Linked DNA regions of Homo sapiens. The protein of the gene in region 2 interacts with the protein of the main gene of each other region in a biochemical or structural test. Each region holds a gene or a part of one and is shown on either strand. Other genes may lie near its edges.

Region 1 (3,652 bases), on a different chromosome or scaffold from region 2:
AGCCAGGGATTCTGCTAAATATCCCATAATGCACAGGGCAGCCTCCAGAACAAAGAATTATTTGACCCGAAATGTCAATAGTTCCATGGTTAGTTGAGAGACCCTGTATTACATAAATGTAGAATTCTAGGTTGACTTAAAAAAAAAAAAGGAGAAGAGTGAAAAGTAATTCCAAGAGTCAGAAATGGTAGAAAAGGAGGCACAGATAAATCTTTGGGGAAAATGTAAAGGATGCAAGAATTCTCACTTATTGGAAAGAAAAATGATCAGGCTAAATGGGAAATGATTTGGGCCAAAAGAAATGACATGGCTTCCAACGTCTAGAAATAAGGACCCCAAAGTTATTATTTTTCCTGTTATGTTTAGTTATGTAATAACTATACATAGTTATGGGGTACAAAGATATTTTTGATACATGTATAAAATGTGTAGTGATCAAATGAGGGTAATTAGGCTACCCATCATCCCAAACATGCATCATTTCTTTGTGCTGGGAGCATTCAAAATCCTCTCTCCTAGCTTTTTGAACATACTCAATATATTATTCTTAACTGTTTTCACTCTACAGTGCTATAGAACACTAGAACTTATTCCATCCATCTAGCTATAATTTTGCATCCATTAACCAACCTCTTTCTATGCTCCTCTCCCCACTACCGTTCCTAGCCTCTAATAGCCACAATTCCACTCCCTACTTCTATGAGCTCTTTTCAGGCTGGAGTGCGGTGGTGTGATCTCAGCCCACTGCAACCTCCGCCTCATGAGTTCAAGCAATTCTTGTGCCTCAGCCTCCCGAGTAGCCGGGACTACAGGCACCTGCCACCATGCCGGCTAATTTTTGTATTTTTAGTAGAGACAGGGTTTTGCCATGTTGGCCAGGCTGACCTTGAACTCCTGGTCTCAAGTGATCCGCCCACCTTGGCCTCCCAAAGCACTGGGATTACAGGCGTGAGCCACCCACCACGCCAGGCCGAGCTCCTTTTTTTTTTTTTTTTTTTTTTTTTTAAGAGACAGGGTCTTACTTTGTTGCCCAGGCTGAAGTTCAGTGAAGCTCATTTTTTTAAGCTCCCACATATGAGTAAGAACATGTGGCATTTATCTTTCCGTGTCTGACTTATTTCACTTAACATAATGTCCTCCAAGTTCATACATGTTGCCACAAATAACAGAATTTCATTCTTTTTTATGGCTGAATAGTATTGCACTGTGTATATATACCACATTTTCTTTATCCATTCATCTCTTGATAGACATTTAGGTTGATTCCATATCTTGGCTATTATGTACAGTGCTGCAATAAACATGGCAGTGCAGATATCTCTTCAATAGACTGATTTCCTTTCCTTTGAAAAAATACCCAGTGGTGAGACTGCTAAATCATATGGTAGTTTTATTTTTAGTTTTTTGAGAGGCCCTTATATTGTTTTCTGCAATGGCTGTACTAATTTATATTCTCACCAATAGTGTTTCAGAGTTCCCTTTTCTCCACATCCTCTCAAGCATTTGTTATCTTTTGTCTTTTTGACAATAGCCATTCTAACTGGGGTAAGATCATATCTCATCATGGTTTTGATTTGAATTATCCTGATGATTAATGATGTTGAGCATTTTTTCATATACTTGCTGCCAATTAGTATGTCTTTTGAGAAATGTCTATTCAGATTCTATGTCCATTTTTTAATTGAATTATTTGTTTTGTTTTGTTTTGTTTTGCTGTTGGGTTATTTGCATTCCCTGTATATTCTGGATATTAATTCCTTGTCAGGTGAATAGTTCACAAATATTTTCTCCCATTCTACATCTTGTCTCTTCTCTCTGTTGATTGCTTCCTTTACTGTCCAGAAGCTTTTTAGCTTTGTATAGTCCCATTTGTCTGTTTTTGGTTTTGTTGCCTGTGTTTTCATATCCTTATCCCTAAAATATTTGCCTAGGGGAGTCTCAGAGCCTACTCTGGCTCAGGATCTGCCCAATTTTATTAAATTTATTATAAAATTTAAAAAATTTTAAAAATTAAAATTAAAATAAAAAATAAAACATTTGCCTTGATCAATGACTTGAAGCATTTACACTATATTTTCTTCGGTTGTTTTATAGTTTTGAGTCTTACATTTAAGTCTATAATCCAGTTCGAGTTGATTTTTGTATATGGTGAGAGAGAGGGCTCTAGTCTTAGTCTACCACATATGATTACCACTTTTCCTCGGACCATGTACTGAAGAGGATATCCTTTCCTCAGTGTATGTTCTTGGCACCTTTGTTGAAAATCTGTTGAATGTAAATGTGTGGGTTTAGTTCTGGGTTATCTATTCTGTTTCATTGGTCTATGCATCTGTTTTTATGCCAATACCATGCTGTTTTGGTTACTATAGCTCTGTAGTATGATTTGAAGTTAGGAAGTGTGGTGTCTCTACTAAAAATACAAAAATTAGCCGGGCATGGTGGTGCATGCCTGTAATCCCAGCTACTAGGGAGGCTAAGGGAGGAGAATCACTTTAATCTGGGAGGTGGAGGTTGCAGTGAACTGAGATCACACCATTGCACTCCAGCCTAGGTGACAAGAGTGAGACTCCCTCTCAAAAAAAAAAAAAAAAGATTTAGTGTTAGTTCTTATGGTAGAATTCAGCAGTAAAACCATCCAATTCTGGGCTTTTTTTATTACTGATTCAATCTCATTACATATTATTGGTCTATTCAGGTTTTCTATCTTGGTAGGTTATGTGTGTCCAGGAATTTATCCATTTCCTCTATGTTTTCCAATTTGTTGGCATATAGTTGTTCATAAGAGTCTTTAATGATCTTTTGTATTTCTGTGGTACAGTTGTAATGTCTCCTTTTTCATTTCTGATTTTATTTATTTGGGTCTTCTCTTTTTTTCTTAATCTAGCTAAAGATTTGTCTATTTTGTTTTTCCTCAAAAAATTTTGTTTTGTTGATCTTTTATAATTTTGCCTCAATTTCATTTATTTCTGCTCTGATCTTTATTATTTCTTTCTTTCTACTAATTTTGGATTTAGTTTGTTCTTGCTTTTCTGGTTCCTTGAGGTGCATTCTTAGATTGTTTATTTGAAATCTTTCTGCTTGTTTGATATAGGTGTTTATGGCTATAAACTTCCCTTCTTAACACTGTGTTTGCTTTATTTCATTGATTTTGATATATTATGCTTCCATTTTCATTATTTTCAAGACATTTTTTGCTTTCCTTCTCAATTTCATCATTGACTCACTGGTCATTCAGGAGCATGTTGTTTAATTTCCATGTATTTGTACAGTTTTCCAAAGTTCCTCTTGTTACTGATTTCTAGTTTTATTCCATTGTGGTCTAAGAACATACCTGGTATGATTTCAATTTTTAAGAATTTGTTGAAATTTGTTTTGTGCCCTAACATATGGTCTATTCTGGAGAATGTGCCATGTGCTGATGAGAAGAAGAATGTGTATTCTGTAGCTGTTGGATAAAATGTTGTGTAAATATCTGCGAGGTCCATTTGGTCCAAAGTGCAGTATAAATCCAATGTTTCTTTGTTAATTTTCTGTCTAGATGATCCGTCTAATGCTGAGGGTAGAGTGTTAAAGTCCTGAACATTGTTGTATTGGAGTCTATCTGTTTACATCTAATGATATTTGCTTTATATATCCAGGTGCACTGATGTTG
Region 2 (3,652 bases):
TGTGCATCTGAAATTCCAGTTTAACTGGGTGTCTTCTATTTTTATTTGCTGTATCTGGCAACCCTAGTGGGGAGGGGGCCTGTGGGTGGTTCTGGGGATTCAGTGGTGCATGGGGAGGGGTTGGGGAATGTTGTGAGGATGCAATGGAGCCTGGGGAGGGTATGGGTGGGGAGGAGGTGGTCTTGGGTGCAGAGAGGGGCCCAGGGCTCACCGGCAGATGATCTTCTCTGTGCGGATGGCCCGATTTCCCACCCCAAGTCGGAGCTTGCGGTTGAGTTGAAGCGCAAACCACACGTCGGAGCGCTCGGGAGTCAGGTCCCATGCTGTGTCCCCCTCTTTGTTCCGCAGCTCAGGGTTGGCCCCACGTGACAGGAATAACCTGAAGAGGGGACAGGATGCCCAATGCAGGGTCTGAGGCTGCAAGAAGTGGGGGCAGGGGCATCAAGGGCGGGGCAGGGGCTCACAGCACGCAGTCATGGTAGCTCTCCCGAGCTGCGATGTGCAGGGGGGTGTCCCCATGGTAGTTGACAGCATGGAGGTCACAGCGCGCATTCAGAAGGACTTCGGCGATGGCGGCGCTGCCCGTGAAGGAGGCCCAGTGCAGGCAGATGTTCTCCTCCTGTGGAGGTAGGAGGGGAACAGATGAGGTGCAGGCAGCTGGGCCCTTGAATCCAGCCTCCACCTTGCTCAGGGGCCTGGGGCTGCCCTACCTCAACCAAACGCTCACTCACGTTGTCAGTGAGGGTGACGTCGGCGCCCCGCGTCAGTAGCATGCGGATCACCTCGATGTGCTTGTGCTCTGCAGCCCAGATGATGGGCGTCCACCCCCCACTGTCCTGTGGGTGGGAAGGGAGTGAGGGTGGGGGCAGCTGGCCCTGCTCACCAAAGCAGCAAATGGTCAAGATTGGCTGTGTGTGTGAATCCCAGCTCCACCATTCACAAGCTGTGGGACCCTGGGTAAGTCACTTAACGTCTCTGGGTCGCAGTTTCTTCATCTAAAAAATGGGACTAGTAGGGTCGGGCGCGGTGGCTCATGCCTGTAATCCCAGCACTTTGGGAGGCCGAGGCGGGCGGATCACGAGGTCAGGAGATGGAGGCCATTGTGGCCAACACGGTGAAACCCTGTCTCTACTAAAAAATAGAAAAAATTAGCTGGGCGTGGTGGCAGGCGCCTGTAGTCCCAGCTACTAGGGAGGCTGAGGCAGAATGGCGTGAACCCGGGAGGCGGAGCTTGCAGTGAGCCAAGATCGTGCCACTGCACTCCAGCCTGGGCGACAGAGCAAGACTCCGTCTCAAAAAACAAACAAACAAAAATGGGACTAGTAGCGTCTACCATCTGATGCCAGAGAGAAAATAAAGTAATTGTTCTCTTTCCAAAAAATACAGCCAGGAGCTGGTCATGGAGGTGCATGCCTGTAGTCCCAGCTACTCATGTGACTGAGATGGGAGGGTTGCTTGAGCCCAGGATTTCGAGGCTGCAGAGAGCTATGACTGTCTGTGAACTGCTACTGTACTTCAGCCTGGGTGACATAGCAAGACCCTGTCTCTTAAAAGAAAAAACGAACAAAAATTTCCTAAGTCTGCCCACTCAAAAGTCCTAGAAGCAGCGACAACCCAATAACAATAAACACTCCTAGGAACATAGATTGTATTCTCTAAAAAATGCTTCTGGCCGGGCGCTGTGGCTCACGAGGTCAGGAGTTCAAGATCAGCCTGGCCAATATGGTGAAACCCCGTCTCTACTAAAAATACAAAAATTAGCCGGGCATGGTGGTGGGCGCCTGTAATCCCAGCTACTCGGGAGGCTGAGGCAGGAGAATGGCGTGAACCTGGGAGGCGGAGCTTGCAGTAAGCTGTGATCACGCCATTGCACTCCAGCCTGGGCAACAGAGTGAGACTCCGTCTCAAAAAAAAAAAAAAAAGTTTCCCATAAAGGAAGCAGAGTTTCTTAGAGAAATGGTGGATTCTGAGTTGGGGGCAGGAAATGTGCTGAAAGGTCAGGAGGCTCTCAAAGGCCACTGGGCCACTGGGTCATGTCACAGCCACAGAGGCCTCTTAAAGGGGCTTCTTCTGGACAATGATGGAATAATTCAAAGACTGAGAAGAATGCCAATAAATGACTAAAACACATCCAATGTATGACAACCCAAGAGTTAATAAAAAGCCTCACTGGACACTTTCAGAGATTAAGACAGGAACTGATTATTCTGAAACTTGATAAAGAGAAAGAAACGAGAAAGAAAAGAATGAAGAGAAATACAAATGAGGAAGAAGAAAGCAATGAGGACAGACACGAGCAGTGTGAGGTCAGATGTAGGAAAGGCGGCCCAAAGCCTGAGGCCAAGCCAAGGAACCCAGGCACCAGGGACCCAGAGGGGCTGGGCTGGGTGGGCCGCTGACCTGGGCGTTGACGTCCACCTGTCCTGTGCTCAGCAGCAGGCTGACCATCTCCAAGTTCCCGATTTTGGCTGCGTGGTGGAGGCAGGTGGAACCGTCCTCCTCCTGAGGGAGACACGGGCAAATGAGCCTTTGGGCTGGCACCCCAAACCTGGTCCCTGACTCCGGGGGCCACGCCCTGCTGCCTGCGCGCACACCTTGCTATAGACACAGCCACCACGCTGCACCATGTAACGGGCTACCTCCAGGTGGTTGTTCACCACGGCCTCCATCAGTGGCGTCCGCTGCTGTTTGTCCACTGCATTTATGTTGGCTCCAGCCTGTGAGGGGGCAGGAGGGCTGGCACCAGGGAGGCATGGGGCAGGGGAGGGGCCTAAGGGCCTGGTGAATGAGGCATGGGGCCGGGCCCGTGCTGACCTGCAGCAGCACATGGCAGATCTCCACGGAGCCCTTCTGGGCGGCTGCATGCAGGGGCGTGCGCTTGCTCTGCTGGTCGCTCTGGAAGTTGGGGTCCAGGTTGTCCACTGCGGGGAGAGCCCGCCACACCGGGAGAGGGAGGGACAAGTGGTAAGCAAGCTAGGGGGCAGGTGGCACTTCTTTCAGGAAGGCTTCTCAGGGCCCCAAGCTGGATCAGGGCCCCTCCTGGCATTCTCCGAGCTTGCCTCCACCACAGCATTTATCAGAATAAGGAGTCAAAGGCATCAGCTCTGCCTGAATTCAAACCCTGCCTTGCTTCTCAGTACCACTGTGCACTGTGCAAGGTCCCTAACCTCTCTGTGCAAGCCAAGGCTAACAGGTATAAGCACTCAGAACAGGACCCAGCACCTATGAGTCACCACATCCCCATCGTTATGGGTTACATGTGTCTTTTCCCCACCACACTAAGTCCTTCAGGGCAAGGACTGTGTCCTTCACGACTGTACTCCTGGCCCTGTACCCAGTGCCTGGTATATACATGAAGCTTGGTCAAGGTCTGCTGAAGGAATGGGTGGCACTCACACAGCATCAGGATCACCTTCTGCAGCTCGCCCTGCTTCACGGACAGGTACAACTGCCGAGGGTGGAAACGGAGCTTCTTCCGCCTGCCAAGGGAGCACGGGAGCGGGGAGAGAAGGGGAGCTCCTCAGATTCCAGCATCAGCCTCGACACCACTCCTCTGGCCTCAGCCCCAGTTGCTGTGCCTGAGCAACTCCCCACTCACCTCTCTGACTCCTGGATGACCAGGGCCTTTTCCAGGGCCTCCCGGCCTGGCCCC
Region 3 (3,652 bases), about 27 Mb from region 2:
AAATCTTATTTACATTTCACCAGATCAGCTAATGCCTCCTTTACCCGGCATCATTATGGAAGGTAACACAGTCCGTCTCTGCTTCTGAAGCCAGAGTACACACACACAGCAAGAGACCAAGGGCACACAGGGCCACTAATCCACAGCTCAGCTTCCTGAAACATCAGCCTAAATCAAGGATCTCTGGAGAAGAGCTCCTTGGTAAATATGTTTAAAATATTTCATATTGAATCCCAAAAATTGTATGGACTACATGGTTAATATCATAAAACATGTAAGGTAACTTGAGATTTCAAACAACAGGTCAGGCTTGCAAAGGCCATTTCCTCCTCCCTCCCACCTCCACCTCCTTAGGAGAATTCCTGCTGACTCCTCTGCCGTCTGGAGAACTTGGGTGGAAATGACCATAAAATTTATGTTTAAGTTTACCATAAAAGTAGACTTAATTTTTTCGCTTACACTTACATAGCAACACTTTTTAAAAACTCTTCTTGATAGCTCTTTGCAACATATGCCTTTTCTTTCATAAGCATGCCCTTCACTTGCTCTAAGGGGCGCAGGACTGGCCCCACGGAGCCTGTCACCTCAAGACTTGGAGTGCCATCACCAGCTACCCTCTTCAGCGAACTTCATGAACAAACTTATTAACGTCAATTCACCTGCCTCTGGCAGAGCCTTTTCCTTTACCAAATAACCTGTTTCTAACATGCTAAAGGTGCCAGTCAAGTCCAAGTACATAATGCCTAAAGGAAATGTCAACAGTCTCCAAGAGAGACCCAGAGCTGTTGTCCAGTGTGCATGGGGTGGTGCATCTTTTTGCAAACTAAGATGACTTTTTTTGTCCTGGTTCTGAGATACACTAAAGAGCTGGGATATCCACATTAGTTACATGCTATTAATAAAATAAGAAAAGCTTCTGTGTGCAACTATGTGATGCCTTGAATTCCTAAACAGTAAACTACTAATGAAAAATGGGTACAAGTGAAAAACGGATACATTTTAACCAAAGAACATTCATGATGTGCAGTCAACATTGTTGGGTTTTAACAACAAACACTAGGAAGCTACCAACAAAGAAAACTTCACATAGCAGAGAGCCTACTACAAATGGAAATAAGACAAAAAGTAAATAAAAGACATTCTCTAGATATATTGAAGCTAACCTCTCCACAAAAAAGAAAGTATACTATACGGTCACACGTTGCTTAACTACAGTGATATGTTCTCAGAAATGCGTTGTTAGGCAATTTCACTGCTGTGCGAACCTCACAGAGTGAACTTACACAAACATCAATGTTGTAGCCTACTACACACCTAGGCTGTATGGTAGAGCCTATTGCTTCCAGGCTACAGACCTGTACAGATGTTACTGTACTGAACACTGTAGGCAATTTTAACACAATAGTGAGGACTTGTGTATTAGTCCATTCTCACATTGCTAATAAAGACATACCCGAGACCGGGTAATTTATAAAGGAAACGAGTTTAATTAACTCAGTTCCACATGGCTGGGGGGGCCTCACAATCATGGAGGAAGGTGAATGAGGAGCAAGGTCACACGTTACATGGTGGCAGGCAAGAGAGCTTGTGCAGGGGAACTCCTTTTTATCAAACCATGAGATCTCATGAGACTCACTATCAGGAGAACAGCAAGGGAAAGATCCACCCCACGATTCAACTACCTCCCACAGGGTCCCTCCCATGGTACGTGGGAATTATGGGAGCTACAATTCCAAATGAGATCTGGGTGAGGACACAGCCAAACCATATCAACTTGTGTATCTAAACATAGAAAAGGTACAGTAAAAATGTGGTATTATAATCTTACGGGACCACCATCGTAAGACCAAAGTATCATTATGTGGTACAAGACTATATATCAAGGCATGCCGAACAAAGACATTGAACATTTTGCTTCAGAAGCAATTGCGTTATAACTATTATAATCCATTTTCATAAACAGTCCTCTTGAAAACTACTGTTTTGCATTTTCAATATCATCAGGTAAATCTCAAGTGTTGGTTCAAAGCCTCAATCCCTGCTCATGTCACAAATTCCAAATCAAGAAGGTTTCTTCAGATTCTGGCAATAAAGCAAACATGACTCCAAAGGGCCCTCTCATTACAAATTAACTAGATCTTTAATAAAATATAACTCTCATTAACAGTGATACCATATAGCAATTGTAGGAAACAAGGAAAATATCCCAGCTGCCTCAGTAACTGCCCCCAACCCAAAATAATGACTAAATCATAAAATGGACAAACACCAAAGACTTAAAAAACGAATTGCAGATTAGGTAAAAACTCCCCAGAATATTTCGAAGTAAAAAATGTAATTATTGAAAATTAAAACTCAATGGTTGAATAAAACAGCAGATTAAACACAGCTCATTAGTGAACTATAGTTTAGATCCAAGGAAATAGCTAAAATGCAGCACATAAAAAGAAAACAAAACACAAACAAGGAGATGGAAATGAAAAGGTAAAAGACAAAGAAGAGAGAATGAAATGATCTGATAGATGTCTACTTGGAATTCCTGACGAGTACAGAGAAGGAGTATTTGAAGACAAACTGGCCAAATCCATTTTCGAGCTGATGAGGCACAAATCCAAAAAGCAGCACAACATATACCCACCTAACTAATAAAAAATCACACAAAATACATTGTCGTATTAAACAAGAGGAAACCAAAGTCAAAGAGATGATCTCAAGAACAACCAGAGACAGAAGACAGATCTCCTATAAAGTGACTGCACCTATGCTGACAACAGTCTTGGCCAGGTGCAGTGTGGCTCACACCTGTAATCCAAGCACTCTGGGAGGCTGAGGCGGGTGGATCACTTGATGTCAGGAGTTCGAGACTAGCCTGACCAACATGGTGAAACCCCATCTCTACTAAAAATACAAAAAATAGCCAGGCATGGTGGTGCATGCCCATAATCCCAGCTACTTGAAAGGCTGAGGCAGGAGAATCACTTGAACCAGTGAGGCAGAGGCTACAGTAAGCCAAGATCATGCCACTGCACTCCAGCCTGGGCGACAAGAGTGAAACGCCACCTCAAAAAAAAAAAAAAAAGTCTCAAGAATAGTGCAAAGGCAAGGCAGAAGACAATGGAGCACCATCTTCAGAAGGAGCTGAAAGAAATTAACCAATTAACTGGTTTTATTTGAAATACTATTCTCTTTCAAAAAATGATGGCAAAATAAAGACATGTCCAGATAATAATAATTAAAAAAAAAAAACCTAGAAACTTTTCCATCCATAGTCCCTCACTAAAGAAATCTCTAAAGGATACACTTAAGAAAAAAAAAAATCCCAGAAGGAAGTTCTGAGATAGAAGATGGACGATCTGATTGAAGAAACTATGAAGTCAGAGGTGAATCTAAAGAAAGGTTGTATAAAATAATAATGTTCTATTTGATGAGGGATTTTTTCATGGGCAATAAGAAAGCAGTAGCATGTGAGTTCAGGAATGCACCAGGGTTCAAGGAATGTAAAATCTTTACATTGTCAGAAGTGCCATTAAATACTGACTATCTTTAGACATCATGTATGCATAGCTGCAAAATTAGCCACTTAAAGACTAGAAATAGCATACAACTTCTAAACCCAATCAGTGAGGTTTTAATATGGTTTTACTGTAATTTG

What was found.
Region 1: the proteins of EHMT2 (region 2) and ACSM3 are reported together in a solved structure, tested with the Homo sapiens proteins (one study listed by BioGRID).
Region 3: the proteins of EHMT2 (region 2) and CDYL form a complex in vitro, tested with the Homo sapiens proteins (one study listed by BioGRID).

What each region holds. Positions count from the first base shown.
Region 1 is NC_000016.10:20,770,393-20,774,044, forward strand, and holds part of ACSM3 (acyl-coenzyme A synthetase ACSM3, mitochondrial), read left to right. Parts: intron 1-3,652. UniProt on the Homo sapiens protein: Catalyzes the activation of fatty acids by CoA to produce an acyl-CoA, the first step in fatty acid metabolism. Capable of activating medium-chain fatty acids with a preference for isobutyrate among fatty acids with 2-6 carbon atoms.
Region 2 is NC_000006.12:31,884,181-31,887,832, forward strand, and holds part of EHMT2 (histone-lysine N-methyltransferase EHMT2), read right to left. Parts: coding exon 3,599-3,652; intron 3,480-3,598; coding exon 3,397-3,479; intron 2,922-3,396; coding exon 2,815-2,921; intron 2,718-2,814; coding exon 2,595-2,717; intron 2,503-2,594; coding exon 2,401-2,502; intron 876-2,400; coding exon of another isoform or gene 837-875; coding exon 732-836; coding exon of another isoform or gene 711-731; intron 620-710; coding exon 465-619; intron 380-464; coding exon 212-379; intron 25-211; exon of another isoform or gene 1-24. UniProt on the Homo sapiens protein: Histone methyltransferase that specifically mono- and dimethylates 'Lys-9' of histone H3 (H3K9me1 and H3K9me2, respectively) in euchromatin.
Region 3 is NC_000006.12:4,782,845-4,786,496, reverse strand, and holds part of CDYL (chromodomain Y-like protein), read right to left. Parts: intron 1-3,652.